Regions from separate parts of the Homo sapiens genome. Here region 2 is linked to region 1. Evidence: fine-mapped expression QTL. Tissue or cell type: whole blood. Region 1 holds a variant in brackets; the other region holds the start of a gene. All regions are shown on one strand. Distances are between the middles of the regions.

The links. PIP is the estimated chance that this variant, and not a neighbour inherited with it, causes the effect.
Region 2: it holds the start of ABL2, and the variant in region 1 is fine-mapped to the expression of ABL2 in whole blood (TOPMed, PIP 0.98).

The regions. Positions count from the first base shown.
Region 1 is chr1:179,248,577-179,259,715 of GRCh38, reverse strand. It overlaps the pseudogene COX5BP8. Among named protein-coding and RNA genes, the nearest start is that of ABL2, 24 kb to the right of the region's middle. RefSeq lists a silencer at 9,048-9,220. The variant C/T (reference allele first, on the strand shown) is at 5,347.
Region 2 is chr1:179,223,918-179,235,056 of GRCh38, reverse strand. It overlaps ABL2 (ABL proto-oncogene 2, non-receptor tyrosine kinase), which reads left to right and starts at 5,380. Exons shown (of 12, transcript NM_007314.4): 1 at 5,380-5,816. The coding sequence starts at 5,660. RefSeq lists a silencer at 5,465-5,874 and an enhancer at 5,330-6,086.

The DNA.
Region 1 (11,139 bases):
GAAACTTAAAGCTAAATTTGCTACCCAGAACTCAATAGTGACTCACTATAGTTAAGGAGAGTATAAATAAAGAAAATAATCATAGGCACCTGCAGGTGCTAAGACAATTAAGAGAAACTATAAATATTATTCACATTGAAATTCATCAGCAACTCAATACAGATGCATGTATTGTTTCTTAAGAAATCACAAAGTAGGCCGGGCATGATGGCCCACACCTGTAATCCCAGCACTCTGGGAGGCGGAGGCAGGTAGATCACCTGAGGTCAGGAGTTCGAGACCAGCCTGGCCAACAGTGAAACCCCATCTCTACTAAAAATACAAAAATTAGCCAGGCACGGTGGTGCATGCCTGTAATCCCAGCTACTCGGGAGGCCGAGAGGGGAGAATCGCTTAAAGCCGGGAGGCGGAGGTTGCAGTGAGCCAAGGTCGCCCCACTGCACCTCAGCCTGGGCAACAAGAGTGAAACTCTGTCGGAAAGAAAGAAGGAAGGAAGGAAGGAAGGAAGAAAGGAAGGAAGGGTGGGCATGAAGTATATAGAATGAGCCAATGTTCAATAAACAGTAGAAAAGAACAGATCTAAGGGAAATTTGCTGTGTTTAAAATTTATACTTTCTTTTTTGCCTCATAAAGGATGAAAATCACTTCTTTTTTCTCTTTTATATATCCTCCCTTTAATTAGTGTTCAGATAGTGTGTATAGTGCTGAGAGTCCTACACTTCAGACACAGAATTCAAATGGAGAAGAAAAATGCAAAGTTCTTGCCAATTTCTAGATGAAGTTTCAGCAGTTTTACTTTTTAGGTACAGTGAAAATGGTTGAAGTTGGCTCAGGGATATATGTTATGCTGATTAAAGACTTACTAGATTTATGATAAAGAATTTCCTTGAATAATTTAAAAGAAAAAGATGCTAATTTCTAGAGATTATTTTATATTTAGTTGATCAAAGCTCTATGTAGCAAAATAATTCGCACTCTCCAACTGTGGCAGATTGTTATCATAATAACTCCTAAAGTATTATGAGTCTCATGAGTCCTCATTTTCATGGTCCATGACATTGCCTCTCCTTCCATCAAAAGGTAGACTCTATTACCCTATGGCCTAGAATCTGGACAGGCCTTGTGATTTGCTTTGACCAATAGGATGTGGCAGAATGATGTTGTGTGAGCACTGGAGCCTGAGCCTGAAGATTCTTGGCAGCTTCTGCCTTTGCTGTTTTGGAACAAAGGTGCCATGTAAAGAAGTTTAAACTGGCTGCTGCTTGCTGAATGATGAGAACCCACATGGAGAGAAAAATCTCAGCCTTGCAATTATCCCCATCAAAGTCAAGGAACAATGAGCCATGATCATGATCTTTAGATTGCATTTTTTTGCTAAATGTGAAATAAATATATTATATAATACACGTGTAAATAGAATAGGTTTTCCCCCGAGATCTTAGAAGAGAATGCCTATAGTATGTTAATAAGCCTTGGTATCATACTATAAAAAGAGCAGGAGGTAAAGGCTAACCATGTTGCATCATTATTTAAAATCCTGACCCGGCACACAACGGCTCACATCGGTAATCCCACAGCACTTAGGAGGACTGAGGTGGGAAGAATACTTTGAGCCCAGGAGTTCAAGATCAAGCTGGGCAACAAAGTGAGACCCCTGTCTCTACAAAAACAAAAGCAAAAATTAGCCAGGCATGGTTGCGTGCAACTATAGTTCCAACTACTCAGGATGCTAAGGTGGGAGGATCCTGATACACAATGAAGTTTGAGAACCACTGAGCTAAGAAAACAGCTATTGTTAGCTAATGAAATACTCAAGTGGGCAGCCCCAAAAGTTGATCAGTCCACTCTTGCTATTATTTATTTATTTATTTATTTATTTTTGAGACAGAGTTTTGCTCTTCTTGCCCAAGCTGGAGTGCAATGGCGCGATCTTGGCTGACTGCAGCCTCCACCTCCTGGGTCAAATGATTCTCCTGCCTCAACCTCCTGAGTAGCTGGGATGACAGGAGCGTGCCACCATGCCCGGCTAATTTTTTTGTATTTTTAGTAGAAACGGGGTTTCACCATGTTAGCCAGGCTGGTCTTAAACTCCTGACCTCAGGTGATCCGCCCACCTCGGCCTCCCAAAGTGCTGGGATTACTATTCTGGCTGGATATCGAGATAGTGGGCAGTTTCCTTGCCCCCTAGGGAAGGCTTGCCTAGCATGAGGCTACCCTGTGCAACCTCACAACAATTATAGAAACTCTATCCTATAAGACTGTGATGCTCTTACTTGCCTCAAAGTCTTCCCAGACTCATTAGCCAATACTGTGCTTGACAATCACTTGGCTTTTGATTACCTCTTGGCAGAACAAGGTGGGATATGTGTAGTCACTAACTCTTCCTGTTGTGCTTTGGTAAATAATTCAACATTAATAGAAAAAGACATTAAATTTATCTATGACCAGGTCAAGTGGTTGCACCAATTTACGAAAAGGGCACAAATGCTCAGGGAATATGGGAGATCATAAAATAGGCCATCCCTAATCTCACCTGGTTTTTACCCTTCCTGGGCTCTTTAGCTGCCATCCTACTTCTCTTGATTCTGGGCCCTGTCTCTCAAACTGTCTGGTCTCTTTTGTGTCTAAGTAAATTGAAGACGGCAGGGCGTGGTGGCTCACGCCTGTAATCCCACCACTTTGGGAGGCTGAGGCAGGTGAATCACTTGAGGTCAGGAGTTTGAGACCGGCCTGGGCAACATGGTGAAACCCTGTCTCTACTAAAAATACAAAAATTAGCTGGGCGTGGTGGCACACACCTGTAATCCCAGCTGCTGGGGAGGCTGAGGCAGGAGAATCACTTGAACCCAGGAGGCGGTGGTTGCAGTGAGCTGAGATCGCTCCACTGCACTCCAGTCTGGGCAACAGAGTGAGACTCTGTCTCAAAAAAAAAAAAATAAATAAATAAAATAAATAAATAAATAAAGTGAATTGAAGCCATACAGGGATATAAACAGCTAGATTTGCACCCAGGAGATAACCAGACCTATCTAAGACTAGTTAGGAAAAAATTTCACTAATCTAATAGGCCCCATGTAAACACCCAAACTCAGCTTGAAGAAGCTGTAGAAGACAGACCTTCATTCCACAGCACTCCTCAAGAATGAGGACTGAGGCCAGACACAATGGCTCACACCTGTAATCCCAGCATTTTGGGAGGCTGAGGCAGGCAGATCACTTGAGCTCGGGGTTCGAGACCAGCCTGGGGAACATGATGAGACCCCCCCCCCACCACCACCATCTCTACAAAAAAAATACAAAAATTAGCTGGGTGTAGTGACATGTACCTGTGGTCCCAGCTATCCTGCAGGATGAGGTGGGAGAATCGCTTGAGCCCAGGAGGTTGAGGCTGCAGTGAGCTATGATCATGCCATTGCACTCCAGCCTGGGTGACAGAGCAAGACCCTGTTTCAAAGAAAAAAAAAAGAGAAAGAATGAGGAGTGAATGTACAGAAAAAGGGAGATTTGTGTTTTTTGTTTTTTTGTTGTTGTTTTTGGGAGAAGAGGCCAATGCAAGTCTTTATTGGAAAGAAAAGACTTTATAGCACATTTGAGTAACTTAACACAGAGGCTCCATGGGCCCCCTGATGGGGCAGGTTCCACAGTTAGGATATCACTGGCTCTTGCCTTTGTGTAGCCAAAACTAGATGATGGCACTGTTGTCCTCTTCATAGATATAGCCCACTATTCACTTATTGGTGATGGTGGGGACCAAATTAGGGTTCCCTGTGACTGAAGCTGCCTTTGGGGGTATTATACTGTATGGGTCCAGTCCCTTCCGTGCAGCCATCATGAGCTCCCTCTCCAACCCAGCCGCCTTCTTGTCATCAGTAAGAACACCACCTCCAGATGCCATGGAGTACACCATGGCCACTCCATTGGAATTGCGGGCCCTCAGGGCCTGTGTGGCCAGCGCTCTGGTCTGCAAAGCATCTTGAAGCCATCACACCTGTGACAAGCAGTAGCACTGGGAGATTTGTCACCTGGTATAACATGTAGGTGACATAGGTGAATTCCTACTGTATCCAAACTCTTGTTTATCTTTAAGAAACAGGATGCCTGCAATTAAAAGTTCCCTTTGTAACCAGACTAACTGAGACTGGTTAGAACCAAGATAGCCAACCAAATGACTTCAAGAAGACCTCAGGCTTCATTATAATCTCACTTCCATGCTAAATGACACTCCCACTAGTGCCATGACAGTTGACAATTGCCAAGACAGTGACCAGAAGAAGCCATAAAAGCACAAAAAAGAAGGCAGCACTATGGTTCTGGGAAGCCCACCACCCATTTCCAGAAAAAATGTGAGTATTTCTCCCCTTGCTTTTAAAGTCCAACCCCATTATTAGAGAAGCCCTAAATTTTAGTCCCCTCACCTTTCACTTATTGAGACATTGATTAGTGAGCCAGGCTCCCACTTCTGGATTCCATGGCCATTGAATAAAGCCTGCACTGGTTGACACTCACTTTTAGTTTTGTATATTGACTTCATGACACCAAATAGTAAAGTACCACATCTTTATAGGGACCAGCTTTGTTGTTCATAAAACTGGCAACCCAGATGGGACACTGGACTAGATTAGGGAAGGCCTATTTGGGAAGGCCCTTTGCCTCACCGCAGACCTGGCAACAGGCACCTGACAGCTGGAACCAGCTTTGTCAGTAACATTGTGAAGATTAAATGTAGACATAAACTCTTAGGACAGTACATGGCACAGGATAGGAATAGTCTGATTTTTTAATTAATTTATTTATTTTTTGAGATGGAGTCTCACTCTGTCACCAAGGCTGGAGTGCAATAGTGTGATCTCGGCTGGGGCAGGCTCAAGTAGGCTGCCTCAGCCTCCCGAGTAGCTGAGATTACAGATGTGCACTGCCACGCCTGGCTAATTTTTGTATTTTTAGTAGAGATGGGGTTTCACCATGTTGGCCAGGCTGGTCTCAAACTCCTGACCTCAGGCAATCCGCCCACCTCGGCCTCCCAAAGTGCTGGGATTATAGGTGTGAGCCACCATGCCCAGCTGAATAGTCTGAATTTTAGCCATTATTAGAGATCTGGGGAACTCTTTTTTCCTTTATGTGTAGAGGAGTTGGCCTACTGAGGAACTCTACCACCAATCAGTCTGTGCTATGACTGAGTTTCTGGAGTCAGTCTACCTCTAAATGTGTTCATGGACATAGAGTAGCAAGCATGGCTTCATGTATCCCTATACAAAGTGTTTTCATTTCATTTCCTATTGCTGCTGCAATGAATTCTGGAGGCTCTAGGGGAGAGCCTGTTTTCTTGCCTTTTCCATCTTCTGTAGG[C/T]GGCCTGCATTCCTTGGCTTGTAACCCTGCTTTATTCCAGGCCTCTGTTTCCATCGTCATACCTCCTCTTCTTATTCTCAATATCCTGTCCCTCCCCTTATAAGATTCATGTGATTGCCGGGCACGGTGAATCATGCCTGTAATCCTAGCACTTTGGGAGGCCAAGGCGGGCAGACTGAGCTCAGGAGTTCGAGACCAGCCTGGGCAACATGGTGAAACCCCATCTCTACTAAAATACAAAAAAAATTAGCCAGGAGTGGTGGCGTGCGCCTGTAGTCCCAGCTACTCGGGAGGGTGAGACAGGAGAAGTGCTTGAACCTGGGAGGCAGAGGTTGCAGTGAGCTGAGATTGCACCACCGCCCTCCAGTCTGGGTGACAGAATGAGACACTGTTTCAAAAAAAAAAAAAGATTCATGTGATTACTTTGGGCCCATTGGCTAATGCAGGATTATCGCCCCATCTCAAGATCCTTAATTTAGTCACATCTACAAAATCCATTTGACCATGTAAGATAACATATTCTCAGGTTCTAGAGATTAGAAGGTGGGCATCTTTGATGAGGAAGTGTCAGTTTATGCTTACCACACTGGACAAGGAGTTTATCTCGGTTGTGGTGGACACATTTCTCTGAATCATACAGAGGTCATGTTAGCCACTTTCTCACGGATGGCTCTTTTCCCGAAGAATAACAGTGGGAAAGAAAAATGCCAGCCTTTGAAAAGACAGAGAGACAGAGGAGTATACCATTTTTCTTATGTGAGTGAAGAAATGGTGATAGGAATGGTTACTTTCTGAAAATATGCAAGGACTATCTAAAACCCTGGAATGTTAAGGGCTTGATGACATAGAAGTCATAGTAGCAACTCCAGCCTCAGCTGGAAGTAGGCTGAAGTAGGCTGCATGGCCTCTTTACACTTTCGCATATGCTTCCAGATCCCACATGTCAGTGACAAATGATCGTGTTATATAGCAAAACACGTAAGAACACAAGCTCTGGAGTCAGCCAAGACCCACATCCTTGCTCCGCTAGCTCTGCTATTTACTAATTGGGTGACCTTGGATGACCTGCTTAACTTCTCTAGACTAAGTTTTCTTGACTGTAAAATGGGGATAATGAGAGGTCACAGGTTTGTTATTAGGATTACATGAGATAATGTATGCAAAGTGCTTAGCATAGTGTCTGACACAGTAATTACTATTCAGTAAATTATTATTATTATTATAACTGGAATAAATATGAGGAAAGATAAAGTAGAACTGCACCATCTAACACAACAACATATTCTATAATCCCCTATAAATCTCCCCCCAAAGTCCCACTCATCATAGAAACTACTCTCCTAAATTGCTCTTCTTTGTCTCTTTGGAAACTCCTATCCTTTCTGGGTCTCTTCTTCTCACTTTTGGAATAATTTCTGTCAGACATCTTCTGTATGGCTTCTCATTTAGGCTCATTCCATTCTGTTTCTCTGCCCATTTAACTAATGAGTATAACAAAGGCACAATATTGAGTCATATAGATATCCCTTTAAAAGAGCTGAAAGTGGCAGAAACAAGTCTGTGAATACTTACCCTGGTCTCTTTTTGTCCTATCAACTTCTGTTTTTTTGTTTTGTTTTGTTTTGTTTTTGAGACACAGTTTCACTCTGTCGCCCAGGCTAGAGTGCAGTGGCACGATCTATCTCGGCTCACTGCAACCTCTGCTTCCTGGGCTCCAGTGATTTTCCTGCCTCAGCCTCCGAGTAGCTGGGATTACAGGCTCCCGCCACTGTGCCCGGCTAATTTTTGTATTTTTAGTACAGATGGGGTTTCACCATGTTGGCCAGGCTGGTCTCGAACTCCTGACCTCAGGTGATCTGCCCGCCTTGGCCTCCCAAAGTGTTGGGATTACAGGTGTGAGCCACCATGGCTGGCCATTTCTTTCTGTGTTGTTGTTGTTGCTGTTTTGTTTTGTTTTGTTTTTTCCGAGATGGAGGCTCACTTTGTCACCCAGGCTGGAGTGCAGTTTGTGCAATCTCGGCTTACTGCAACCTCTGCCTCCTGGGTTCAAGTGATTCTAGTGCCTCAGCCTCCCAAGTAGCTGGGGTTACAGGCATGCGCCACCACGCCCAGTTAATTTTTATATTTTTAGTAGAGACATGGTTTCACCACATTGGCCAGGCTGATCTCGAGCTCCAGTTCTCAAGTGATCTGCCCACCTCGGCCTCCCAAAATGCTGGGATTACAGGACAGTCAACCTCATTTTTTATCCTCATGCTCTTCCAGCTTACAACCTTGTTCAGGTGTGCCAAATGTTTGGAGAACCATATAAATTGAGCTTATTTATATTCAGTTTGGAATTCTGAAGCATTTATTAAACTCTTTCATCTATGTTGACTGGGGAACAATGCATCTGCTCAATAGTGACTGCTCTGGAAAAGTCCTTGTTAAGCTACTAGCTGCAGGTTTCTTCTATCCAAGGAGGACATCTAGAGGCTAACTGTGATGTGTAGCCTTTCCAGGAATGCTTTCCAAATTGTTTTCTTCACAGATCCAATCATAAATCATAAATCACATACCCAGTAAGTCTAACTAGAATAAATATTAAAGTATAGCTTATCTTAAGGGAAGAAACAGACCTAATGACGTTACATTTATTTTCCAGGCACAGTAGAAGTACATTAAGGGTACAGAAGAACTTTTAAATGTGATGAGTTGGGAGAAGAGCCATAAAGACAATTTGGGGGCTGGGCGCACTGGCTTATGCCTGTAATCCCAATACTTTGGGAGGCGGAGGCAGGTGGATCACTTGAGATCAGGAGTTCGAGACCAGCCCAGCCAACATGGTGAAACCCCCCTCTCTACTAAAAATACAATAATTAGCTGGGCATGGTGGTAGGCGCCTGTAATCCTGGCTATGTGGGAGGCTGAAGCAGATGAATGGCTTGAATCCAGGAGGTGGACGTTGCAGTGAGCTGAGATGGAGCCACTGCACTTCAGCCTGGTCAACAAGAGCAAAACTCCATCTCAAAAAAAAAAAAAAAAGGATTTGGGACAGGTGAAGAAATTTGAGCATGTTGGTTGATGTGACTGAGTTAATATTGATTTTCTTAAGTGTGTTAGGACCCTGTGCTTCTGCAGGACAGTATTCCTGTTCTTGGGAGATTCAAGCTGGGATATTTAAGAATAATGTAGGAAGACATCTGCAACCTACTTTCAAATGTTTTAACAAAAAGGAGATGTGTGTATACATATGTAGAGAGACAAAGCAGGTGTGGCAAGAGGTCATCAGTTGGTAAATCTAAGTGGGGAGAAATGTGAGTATTCATTACACTTTTCTACAACTTTACGTTTTTTCCAAATGAAAAAAGTTAGAACAGGCTGGGAATGATGGCTCATGCCTATAATCCCAGCACTTTGGGAGGCCGAGGCCCGTGGGTCACCTGAGGTCAGGAATTCAAGACCAGCCTGGCCAACATGGTGAAACCCTGTCTCTACTAAAAATACAAAAATTAGCCGAGCATGGTGGTGGGCACCTGTAATCCCAGCTATGTGGGAGGCTGAGGCAGGAGAATGGCTTGAACCCCAGAGGCGGAGGTTGCAGTGAGCCGATATCATGCCACTGCACTCCAGCTTGGGCGAGTGAGTGAGACTCCATCTAAAAAAAAAAATCAGAACATAAAAGCAATGAGCAAAGTCACTTAAAATATTACCTGAATTTGTATCTCCACCGTTGTGACATCTCTTATGCTGTGTTTTGTTCCTGTGTTGAAATTGGACTTTTTTTTTTTTTTTTTTTTGTGATGGAGTCTCACTGTGTCACCTAGGCTGGAGTGCGGTGGCACGATCTCAGCTCACTGCAACCTCCACCTCCCAGGTTCAAGCGATTCTCTTGCCTCAGCCTCCTGAGTAGCTGGGATTACAGATGCATGCCACCACACCCAATTGATTGATTGACTGATTAATTTTATTTATTTATTTATTTTTGAGATGGAGTTTTGCTCTTGTTGCCCAGGCTGGAGTGCAATGGCATGATCTCGGCTGACTGAAACCTCTGCCTCCTGGGTTCAAGTGATTCTCCTGCCTCAGCCTCCCGAGTAGCTGGGATTACAGGTGTGCACCACTATGCCCGGTTAATTTTGTATTTTTAGTAGGGACAGGGTTTCTCCATGTTGGTCAGGCTGGTCTGGAACTCCCAACCTCAGGTAATTCGCCCGCCTCAGCCTCCCAATATTTTTTTATTTTTAAAGATGGAGTCTAGGCCGGGCGCGGTGGCTCGCGCCTGTAATCCCAGCACTTTGGGAGGCTGAGGTGGGCGGATCACCTGAGGCCGGGAGTTCACGACCAGCCTGATCAACATGGAGAAACCCCATCTCTACTAAAAATACAAAATTAGCCAGGGGTGGTGGCACATGCCTGTAATCCCAGCTACTCGGGAGGCTGAGGCAGGAGAATTGCTTGAACCCAGGAGGCGGAAGTTGCGGTGAGCTGAGATCACGCCATTGCACTCCAGCCTGGGCAACAAGAGTGAAACTTTGTCTCAAAAAAAAAAAAAAAAAAAAAAGATGGAGTCTTGCTCTGTGGCCCAAGCTAGAGTGCAGTGGCGTGATCTCAGTTCACTGCAACCTCTGCCTACCTGGTTCAAGCAATCCTCCTGCCTCAGCCTCCCGAGTAGCTGGGATTATAGGCACCTGCCACCATGCCTGAATAATTTTTGTATTTTTAGTACAGGCAGGGTTTCACCACGTTGACCAGGCTGGTCTCAAACTCCTGATCTTGTGATCCGCCTGCCTCGGCCTCCCGAATTGCTGGGATTACAGGCATGAGCCACCGCGCCCAGCTGAAATTGGAGTTCTTATGTCTTCCAATCTCACTGTATTGTAATCACTCACATAGTTATTCTGTGCTCCTTGTATCACTCAGCATACAGCAAACACTCACAAATATTTGCTAATGCTAGAAAAAAAAAGTGATAGAAAACTTCACAGCTCCCCACTGTGCCATGCTCCCTCTGGTCTTCCTTAGGGCGGGGAGAATGCTTCCTTCCTCTGTTTCCCCTTCCTCCAGATTCCCACGTTGGGGGAAGCCTTCCTGGCCCTGCTTCTGTGCTCTTAGGTCATTTCCCCTTCTTTAGCACTCATTGCACAGTATATTCTAATTGTCAATTTTCTTTACTGGATTCTCCAACCACACTACAGTTTCCTTGAGGAGAAGGGAATTTTGTCTGCCTTTTTTACAGCTGTTACCTTAGTCCCTGATACAGCAGCTGGCACACAGTAAGAGCTTAATACTTAGTGAATGAATGGCCAATGCTAGGGTGACCAATGTTTTAAAGAGCCAAACTGGCTGGGCATGGTGGCTCATGCCTGTAATCCCAGCACTTTGGGAGGCTGAGGCAGGTGGATCACCTGAGGTTGGGAGTTCGAGACAAGCCTGACCAACATGGAGAAACCCCGTCTCTACTAAAAATACAAAATTAGCAGGGCGTGGTGGCGCATGCCTATAATCCCAACTACTCAGGAGGCTGAGGCAGGAGAATCGCTTTAACCCGGGAGGTGGAGGTTGCGGTGAGCTGAGATCACGCCATTGCCTGGGCGGAGCAAAACTCCGTCTCAAAAAAAAAAAGAGACAAACTGGAATACAGCCATACTAGAAACTCCCCCAAATACATGTATAGCTATACACATATATGTTGTTAATTTAGCATAAAATATGAACACAGTGTTTATTTGATATCAAAGGTGTTTTGATTATTATGGTAAAACAATTTCTTAGAAAGAAGTTCAAAGTCCTCCTTTTCAGGAGGGACTCTTT
Region 2 (11,139 bases), 25 kb after region 1:
TAATAAATCACTGCTGTTTTAAGCCACTAGGTTTTGTGGGGTGTTTTGTTATGCAGCAGTAGAGAACTGAAACAACCCATTTCACATCAGTAATAAACTAGGCCCACATCAATAATTAACTATCACTACACTACAGTTAGTGATAGGCTACATGTTAAATGGATTGTTTAGTCAGCTATTTCATTACCTTTGAAAGGGAAATGAGTAATAACTTATTAATTTTAAATGAATAGATATTATTGCTACTGGTAACATTTATACAGCACTTGGCCAGTTGTTCGAAATAGTCTCCTAATAATTTATAAGGTTTTTTAAATCAAAGAAATGTTGAATCATACACTCTTGGGGCTAAAAGGAACAAGAGGTCATTTAATCTGTCTCCCTACTTTCAAAGAGAATGACTAATTCTGTGCCAGCCAGATAGGAATCTTCTAACTCCTCCTCCTCCTCGTTATCTCATCCAAAAAGACTTTTAAAGTGTCAATCTGTAAATGGAACTGTATTTGGCACTCTATAGGTCTTTAAAGATTTAATACAACAATGCAGAGACAAATCACATAAACAAAGTCCAAAGAACTGTGTACATAAACAGTTTAAGAAAAATGCTGGCCAGGCTCTGGTGGCTCGCACCTGTAATCCCAGCACTGTGGGAGGCCAAGGCAGGTGGATTACGAGGTGAGGAGTTCAAGACCAGCCTGGCCAAGATGGTGAAACCTCATCTCTACTAAAAATACAAAAATTAGCCAGGTGTGGTGGTACACGCCTGTAATCTCAGCTACTCAGGAGGCTGAGGCAGAAGAATCGCTAGAACCTGGGAGGCGGAGGCTGCAGTGAGCCGAGATCATGCCACTGCACTACAGCCTGGGCAACAGAGTGAGATTCTGTCTCCAAAAAAAAAAAAAAGAAAGAAAAGAAAAAGGAAAATGCTATACGTAAAATTACAACAAAATTTTTTTCTCTCAATTTATCTACATAAACATTTTCAGCCCACGTAGATAAATATAGATAGATAAACATAACTATATAAACATGCATATATGCAAGAAAATAAAAGATTTGGGGAAACATGATAGCTTTCAAATATGTGAAAGATTTCATGTAGAATAAAGATTATATTTGTTCTGTGTAGCTACATGGTAGAATTAGAACTGGGGTGAAACAGGTGGAAGTTTCAGGGGAACATTTTTCAGTTTATCTTTAGGAAGAACTTTTTTTTTGAGACTGAGTCTGGCTCTGTCACCCAGGCTGGAGTGCAATGGTGTGATCTCAGCTCACTGTAAGCTCCGCCTCCTGGGTTCATGCCATTCTCCTGAATCAGCCTCCTGAGTAGCTGGGATTACAGGCGCCTGCCACCACGCCCGGCTAATTTTTTGTATTTTTGGTAGAGATGGGGTTTCACCATGTTAGCCAGGATGGTCTCGATCTCCTGACCTTGTGATCCGCCCACTTTGGCCTCCCAAAGTGCTGGGATTACAGGCGTGAGCCACTGCGCCTGGCCCAGGAAGTATGTTTTAATAATTAGAACCTTTTGAAAGAAATGGATACCCTCACTGGAATTACTGCAGAGAGGATTCCAGATTAGCCTACATGACCTCTAAGTTTCTTTCCAACTCTATGACACTTGAGTCATGTGTCAAAACAAAACAGCCGGGTGCGGTGGCTCACGCCTGTAATCCCAGCACTTTGGGAGGCCAAGGCAGATGGATCACAAGGTCAGGAGATCGAGACTATCCTGGCTAACACGGTGAAATCCCATCTCTTCTAAAAAACAAAAAATTAGCCGGGTGTAGTGGTGGTCGCCTGTAGTCCCAGCTACTCGGGAGGCTGAGGCAGGAGAATGGTGTGAACCCGGGAGGCGGAGCTTGCAGTGAGCCGAGATCGCGCCACTGCACTCCAGCCTGGGGGACAGAGCGAGACTCCATATCAAAAACAAAAAACAAAAAACAAAAAACCATATTTGAGGGATGTAGAGGAAGGTAAGCGAATTTTATAACGAAAGAATTATTACCAGTTGTGGTTAAGGCCTGTACTGAATAGAGTCCGAGGAAACTGTTAGGTCTGTATTAATAAGTCTGAGGTTCTCTTATCAAGGAGGCAGGATCTGAATAGAATACTGAAGAGGACAGTAGAATCCTGTAAGGGAGTCACTCGAGACTTATATTAGGGAGAATATAATTATTGCAAAACTCATAGCTAAAAGGGATACATCTCAGAAATAGGCTAATTGGATAAAGTATGTATGCCTGCCATAGGAAAGGTGGAGGTTGGAGGAACAGGAGATGGAAGAACATTAGGCAATTATAATCCAGTTATCCTGGAAAATAACTTCGAAACACTAGGTGAAACGTTTATTTTGTTTATTTATTTATTTATTTATTTATTTTTGAGACAGAGACTCCCTCTGTCACCTAGGCTGGGGTGCAGTGGCGCAATCTCCTGTCACTGCAACTTCCGCCTCCTGGGCTCAAGCAATTCGCCTGCCTCAGGTTCCCCAGTAGCTGGGATTACAGGCACGCGCCCCCACGATTGGCTAGTTTTTGCATTTTTAGTAGAGACGGGGTTTCACCATATTGGCCTGACTGGTCTTAAACTCCTGACCTCAAGTGATCCGCCCACCTTGGCCTCCCAAAGTGCTGGGATTACAAACATGAGCCACTGTGCCCGGCCCATTAGGTGAAAATTTTAGACTTAAGACTTTGTACGTAATGAATGAGAGGGAGAGTGTGGTCAAAGCAATGAGAGAAGCAGTTTCTTTGAGTGAGTTGCTTGGTGCTAAAGGTGAGGAATCTCTAGGAAGAAAGGGCTAGTAGCGGGAGAAACCAGCGCAGAGATGCCTAAGCTAACACTGTGTCTTACATAACGCTGTTTATATAGATGAAGGGAAGAGGTAGATATGAGAGATACTGTAAAACTGTAAAAAGTATGGCAATAGCCTAGAAATGCAGACTGGTGAAGTCAGGGATTGGTGAGGCATTACTCACAAGCTCCTTCCTTCTGGAGAGAGTGGTGTTGCTCCTGTGATAAGGATGATGAGGATGAAGAGTATCTGTGTCTTCAGCACGCCTTACTGCTGTTGGTGATGTGTCTGATCTTTTATGCTGGCCTCTGGCCATTGCTCAAATTTATATATATATATATATATAAAATTTGAAAAAGTTAGGCTTGTAAAACCTAAAACCATTATGTTTTTTGTATTAATAGTATATGCATATATGACACCAGTTATATGCCAAATACTGTTTTAAGTACTATACATATATATTGACTAATTTAATTTTCACAATATTCCTATAAGGTAGATACTATTTGTTATCATCATCAGTTTACAGATAATGTACTGAGACACAAAAAGGTTATGTACTTTGCCCAGATCAAATAGTCCATAAGTATCAGGGCCAAGTTATGAACCCAAGCAGTCTGGCTTCAGAGCCCCTGCCCTTAGCCACTGCACTCTACTGCAGGCTGAGCAGCCCTTATCAGAAATGTTCGGACCACAAGTGTTTCAGATTTGGGAATATTTACACACACATAATGAGATATCTTGGGCATGCGACCCAAGTCTAAACACAAAATTCATTTATGTTTCATATACACCTTTATACACATAGCTTGAATGCAATTTAATACAATATTTTAAAAATTTTGTGCATGAAACAAAGTTTATGTTAAGTACTTACGTGAAATGTTCCACCTCTGGCATCATATTGGTGCTCAAAAAATTTCGAATTTTGCAGCATTTTGGATTTTCAGATTTGAGATGTTCAACCCATATATTCATCTATCTTTATATAGTATGCATGAATTAGCAGAGAAACCAAACCATTATCCCCAAATTAAAATTTTCTCCCATAATAAAAATCAAACAGTAAACCAAATTCCGGCTCTGTGACATCTTTATCCCTTTCGAATGAATTTTTTTCAGTAGTTGCAAACACTGGGAATTAGAAGAAAAGACAGGTATTTTAAACACAGGGAAACTTTAATCCAAATGGAAAGTTCATATTTTATCCAGTGTTTACACATAGTGTTTCCGTTCCCATTTTGGAGTTAATTTCAGTTATTTCTGGCTACACCCTAGATGGCAATGGAATAATTTCATAGTGCTTTTACAACAGGCAATATCTACGTCAGTGGATGGTTCATCTAAGGTCAACCTGGTTCAGGAAAGATATGCAAAGGAGAGCTTCATCCACCTCTTCTCCCAACCCTACATTTCCAGTGGTTGTTTTGTTCCTTCTTTGCAGTGGCTCCCGTCCTGTCTAATTTAAGCAAAATTTCAGTGTAGTACCTCCATTAACTGATACTTTTTATAAAGCAAATTGGGAAGCCAAAAGAATAACAGGAGAATGATCAAGATTTGAGAATTAAAAAAAATTGAATTAAGATGCAAGTAAACACAGTGGGAGAGGGGGATGGCGAGTCAATTGTATATAGTATATGTGTATGTATAAAACGCTTCTTTTCTGCCTCATTCACTCTCTTTAGACTGCATAAGCTAAAATGAGTAAGTTCTGACTCAGAAACAGGGTCAAAGATATATATTTTTTCTCCTTTGTCATCAAAAGAAGACCTGACCACGTGCACAGTGTATAAAGGATGCCAGTGGGAAGATTAACTTTACTGTCAGGCATTGTAAGGAAACAGAAACTCACATATGGTGAGATGGTAAAGGAGTTCAAGAGGAATTCATGGTAATATAATATGAGGAATGGGGCTACAATTGCGTCCCCAATGAGACTATAGAAGGCACACAATCCAGGCCAGTGCGATTTAACATCATGAAATAATCTCCAAAAATTAAAATCAAATAAGGTAGCATTTTACTCTCTTCTTGTAAATTTTATACCATTTTAATTTTTACTGGAGGCCTGCTGCTGACAAGGGTGTTTAAAAGAGATCCCCCTGGGTATTTTAGAGCTCCTTAACTGGATGGCAAGGACCAAATAAATGCCTTGTGCTTTTCTGCCCCACCTGTGCCTGCACCTGAGCTGCGCACGCGGTGGCACTGAGCCCTCGACTCACTCATTTGACAGGTGGAGGTGGGATGGGGAAGGCCGGAGACCGACCAACCCCAAAGGCGGTAGCGTGTGGAGCCGAACGCGGGAGGGGGTCGGCTGAGGCGGATTGAGGGGGGGGACGCCGAGGTGCGGCGACAGGACGCGGAGGACGAAAGACCTCAAGCAGCGGTGGCCGGCAAATGAGGTGGGCACTGGGGGACCCACCCTGCGAGGAGGCGGGGGCGGGGACGGGGGGCGCGGCGCGGCAGGGCGGGGCGGCAGCCGGGAAGCCCTCCTTCCCCGCGGCGGAGGTGACTGGCGGGCGGGGGGCGGGGGGCGGGGGGCGGGAGACGCTCTGTCCCACGCTTTCCCAGCGCTCGGTGGTTTAAAGATGGCGGCGGCGGTGGCGGCGGCGGCGGCGGCGGCGTTGGGGGCGCGGAGCCGCGACAGGAGGAGGGAAAAGCAGAATCTGTGAGTCGCCTGGAGGCAGCGCGGCGGCTGCCGTGAGGAGGCCGGGTGCGGAGCCGCCGGTGGCCCAGCCACTCAGGGCCAGGGCCTGGGCTGGGAGGGAGAGACCGGAGCAGCGCCAGGAGCCCGAGGCCGGAGCCGAGGAGGAATGTGACCAGGGGTCGGCGGGGGCGCGGGAGTACGCGAGAGCAGGGATGGGGCAGCAGGTGGGCCGCGTCGGGGAAGCTCCGGGGCTCCAGCAGCCTCAGCCCCGCGGGATCCGGGGCAGCAGTGCAGCCAGGCCCTCCGGCCGCAGGCGGGACCCGGCGGGGCGCACCACAGAGACCGGCTTCAATATCTTCACCCAGCATGGTGAGTGTGTCTGGGAGCCGGCATGAGAGCGTGGGGGAGGCCGGGGGTGGGGTCGGGGCGGGGTGGGTGGCGGACGGGCTGCCCGAGGGGTCGGAGGGTGGAAGGTGCCTGAGAGTGGGGGCGGAATCCGCTGCCATCTGGTCCAGTCCTGGGAGGCGAGTCACACCCCTCCCCCCTCGCGTCTCTAGCCTGGCTGGCAGATCCCGGGGGCGGAGAAGGAAAGAGAAGTGGGTTTGGGGACCCTGGATGGTCTGTCCTCTACTCTGGGACGGGACTATGCGGCTGCAGAAAGAAAGTGAATGGCAGCTTCAGGAGAGGGAAGGATGAAGGGCAGTATTAGCTCAGTCCCAGAGGTGGGAGCATAAACCCGTCGTTAGTGAAGGGGAAATGGGTTGTATCCTAAGGGATTGGGAAATGGGAACTGAATTTCAGGAGATTGTGGAGTACAAGGTATGTGTTTACGTTAGGTGATGAGCAGTGTCAGGATAGTGAACTGTGGACAGTGTCAAATGCTTTTCTGTAGGGAAGATGAAGTTAGCATCATCTTATCACTTTTGACATGCTTTTGTGGTTTATTTTGTTTTGTATTTCGTTTTTACTAGAAATGAAAGGCTTTGCCAAAGCCTCTGTACTATGCTTCAGAGTAGGACACACAATTCTGAGATTGCTGGCAAGGGCTAGAGGTTGGTGGGCATGGTTAGGACGTCAGTCAGGATATGAACAAGTTTTCCTTTGTAGTGTGTGCGTGTGCCCATATACATACATACATGTATGTATGCTCCCTGTAGTCTGAAACCTATTATTTTGATCTCATTGTCAATGTATTTTTAGAATAGTTGTCTCCAAACTTTTTTTGTCTTGTTTTTTTGTTTTGTTTTTGTTTTTGTTTTTTTTGAGACAGAGTCTCGCTTTGGTCCCCATGATGGAGTGCAATGGCGGGATGTCGGCTCACTGCAATCTCTGCCTCCCGGGTTCAAGTGATTCTCCTGCCTCAGCCTCCCGAGTAGCTGGAACTGCAGGTGTGCACCACCACGCCCGGCTAATTTTTGTATTTTTGGTGGTGGTGGGATTTTGTCATATACTCCTGACATCAGGTAATCTGCCTGCCTTGGCCTCTCAAAGTGCTGGGATTACGGGTGTGAGCCACCACCGTTCCTGGCCCAAACTCTTTTTTTTTTTTTTTTTTTTTTGGAGACGGAGTCTCATTCTGTCGCCCAGGCTGGAGTGCAGTGGCGTGATCTTGGCTCACTGCAACCTCTGCCTCCCAGGTTCAAGCGATTCTCCTGCCTCAGCCTCGGAGTAGCTGGGATTACAGGCGCCCGCCACCACACCCGGCTAATTTTTTGTGTTTTTAGTAGGGTGGGGTTTCTCTATGTTGGCCAGGCTGGTCTCGAACGCCTGACCTCATGATCCACCCGCCACAGCCTCCCAAAGTGCTGGGATTACAGGCGTGAGGCACTGCGCCTGGCCACATGTCTCCTATTGAAGATGTGCTTGAGTGTCTCTTTCGGGTATATGAACACTTTATGAAGGTGATATATGAGCTAATCTTTATTAAAATCACTTCCTAAAACACAGGATGGAAGAATGGATTAGTAGTTTACAGGGAAGAAATCATCCAAGTAAGCTTCACTTTGTGGGAAGTGTTACTATGCATTAAACTTGGCCTAGTAGGCAATGGTGATCCTCTTGCTTTACTATCTTATTCGGTATGTAAGATTTTCCAAGAAAGAGGAAGTCATGAAGAATGGAATAGGAAGACATTTTGAGGATTTGGATCTATGGAGAGGGAGAACAATTTGGGTAGAAGAAACAACTTGAACGGGAACATGGGAATAGATATAATTTGTTGATGGGCTAGTGAGGAGACAGCTGTCAGGAATGAAGCATCATTATGAGTTGGAAGAAAAAGATCATAGAGCAAAAATTGGAAGAGTCAAGTTCTGGTTCTGGCTCCACCTGCCTGGGTGATTTTAGTCACCATCTTTGGGTTTCTTTATCTGTAAAGTGAGGAGGTTGGACTGGATGATCTCTAAGATACTTTCTGGTTTTAAGATTTTATGATTCTAATTAAGAAGCAGTAGAAAGAAAATTTTGATAGGCTGGATGGGACTGGGTTATGGAAAATCTGGCAGAGAAGTTTATATCCATTTACCTGATTGGCTAGTCTTTACCTGAAAGACTGGCCTTGAGTGGTGGCAGTGGAAATGGGAGGAGTAATTTCAAGGGTCCTTTCATTCATTCAACAAACAAGGGTTTTTTTTGAGCACCTGTTATGTACTGGATTGTGGGAATGTTGCTGTGAACATAACAGAGTCCCTGCCCTTTGGAACTTAAAGGACTTTATGATTTGATAGAGGATGAAAGAAGAGAGATCACTTTGGAGTATTTGTTAAGGGCATGAACTCTGGACCCATTTTTCCTGGATTTGAAACCTTGCTTGGCTGCTTATGAGCTTTGTGACCTGGGACAAGTTATTTAACTTTTTGTGTCTTGGACTCTTCATTTGTAAAGTGGTGATAATAATAGTACCTAGTATTAAATGAATAGTGGCTGGGCACATAGTATGAGCTAAATGTGTGTAGCTGCTGCCATTACTAATACTACTGTTATTATTAAAAACAGGAGTAATTCGGCCAGGTGCGGTGGCTCACGCCTGTAATCCCAGCACTGTGGGAGGCCGAGGTGGGCAGATCATGAGGTCAGGAGTTCGAGACCAGCCTGAGCAACATGGTGAAACCTCGTCTGTACTAAAAATAGAAAAATTAGCTGGGCATGGTGGCACGCGCCTGTAGTCCTAGCTACTCAGGAGGCTGAGACAGGAGAATCGCTTGAACCCGGGAGGTGGAGGTTGCAGTGAGCCAAGATCGCGCCACTCCAGCCTGGGTGACAGAGCGAGACTCTGTCTCAAAAAAAAAAAAAAAAAAAAAGTAGGGATAATTCAAAGATGACACCAGGATTTAGAACCTGGCTAACTGGGATGATGAAGATTCTATTGACAAGTTTGGAAGTTAGAAGCTGATTGAAAAAATGGGAATAGGTCGAGTTTATTGCCAAAGACTAGTATGAAAAGAAAGGAATTAGCAAATAATATAGGAAACAAAGGTGCAGTGAGTACTGTTTTTTAGACAGATGGGTTTAAAAAGTTTTTTTCTGTACATCATAGTTTCTTTTTTTTTTTTTTTTTTTTTTTTTTTGAGGCGGAGTCTCACTCTGTCGCCCAGGCTGGAGTGCAGTGGCGCGATCTCGGCTCACTGCAAGCTCCGCCTCCCGGGTTCACGCCATTCTCCTGCCTCAGCCTCCCGAGCAGCTGGGACTACAGGCACCTGCCACCACGCCCGGCTAATTTTTTTTTGTATTTTTAGTAGAGACAGGGTTTCACCGTGTTAGCCAAGATGGTCTTGATCTCCTGACCTCATGATCCGCCCTCTTCGGCCTCCCAAAGTGCTGGGATTACAGGCATGAGCCACCGCTTCCGGCCACGTCATAGTTTCTTAACCTCGGCGGCATTGATATTTTGGGCTGGCTAATTCTGTGTTTTGGGGGGCTGTCCTGTGCATTGTAGGATGTTTAGCAGCATCCCTGGACTCTACCCACTAGATGCCAGTAGCACCTTCTTTTTGCCCCTTACTTGTTATAAAAATGCCTCCAGACATTGTTAAATCTCTTGGGGGGCAGAATTGCCCCTAGTTGAGGACACCACTTAGAAATGTGATAGATTCTGAATTGAATGAATGAATGAATGAATTAGATTCGAAAGCTTCTCAGTGGATGTATCATTTGACCTTTACATGGTAAATGTAGGTGCTCGAATCTAGTGTACAAATTACTGTCTTGAGTTTGCCATATTGAGGTATTAGCACATAATTTCATATATGAATGTTAGGTCTGTTAGACTCTTGGGTTTACATGTAGGTTTTAATATAAGCCAAATAATACATTTAGTTAATCAGTAAAAAGGTACATACATTATGGAAATGGTTTATCAGAGTCCAGGACTTTTCTTTCTTTAGCTAAAATGGTCATTTTTTATCGTTAATAATATGTGGGTAAGCTGTGATAATAATTTGCCTTGCCAAAAGTGATTTTTGTGAATGTAATTTAGAAGGAACAAAAATAATAGAGCCATTTTTGGTATGAAAGGAGTGAGTGCTGTGTGACTTTTCTGAGATCTGCTATTTTTTTTGTCAACTCTTTTATTTTATGTTTTATTTTAGAGAAAGGTCTTGCTCTGCCACCCAGGCTGGAGTGCAGTGCTGCGATCGTAGATCGCTGCAGCCTTAAACTCCTGGACTCAAGCAATCCTCCTGCCTCAGCCTCCCGAGGAGCTGAGACTACAGGCACACGCCATCACACCTGGGTAATTTTGTGTTTTTTTTTTTTTTTTTGTAGAGACGGAGGTCTCACTATGTTGCTCAGGCTGGTCTCAAACTCCTAGGCTCAGGTGATACTCTGCCTCGGCCTCCCAAAGTGCTGGGATTATAGGCGTGAGCCACTGCGAGAGGCAAGCTCTGCTATTAAACCTTTCTGGTGAGCTGATGTTTCATGACTAATAATCTAGGGTTGAATACTTACTTGCTGTTGAATATCTCACATACCTTTTAACAGCTGAATGATTTTACTTTAGCTTCCCTCTCTCATTTTCTAAAAATTCTATTAAAAATTAACTTTAGGCTGGGCGTGGTGGCTCACACCTATAATCCCAGCACTTTGGGAGGCCGACGTGGGCAGATCACCTGAGGTCAGGAGTTCGAGATCAGCCTGGCCAACATGGTGAAACCCTGTCTCTACTAAAAAAATACAAAAATTAGCCAGGTGTGGTGGCGGGCACCTATAGTCCCAGCTACTCAGGAGGCTGAGACAGGAGAATCCCCTGAACCCCGGAGGCGGAGTTTGCAGTGAGCCGAGATCGCGCACCTGCACTCCAGCCTGGGCGACAGAGCAAGACTCCGTCTCCAAAAAAACCAACAAACAAAAACCCTTACATTATGAAGTTTGGAATAACAAAAATTTTTCCTTAAATCAAACTCATTATTTTAAGTGATCTGATTTATTTATTTATTTTTTATTTTGGATCTGTAGTTTTTTTTTTTTTTTTTTTTTTTTGTAGTGAGTAGGGTCTCACTCTCTTGCCCAGGCTGGAGTGCATTGGCGAGATCATGGCTCACTGCAGCCTTGACCTCCCAGACTCAAGTGATCCTCTCACCTCTCAGCCTCCTGAATACCTGGGACTATAGGTGCACGCCACCATGCCTTTCTATTTTTTTTTTTTTTTTGTAGAGACAGAGTTTTGCCATGTTGCCCATGGTGGTTTTGAACTCCT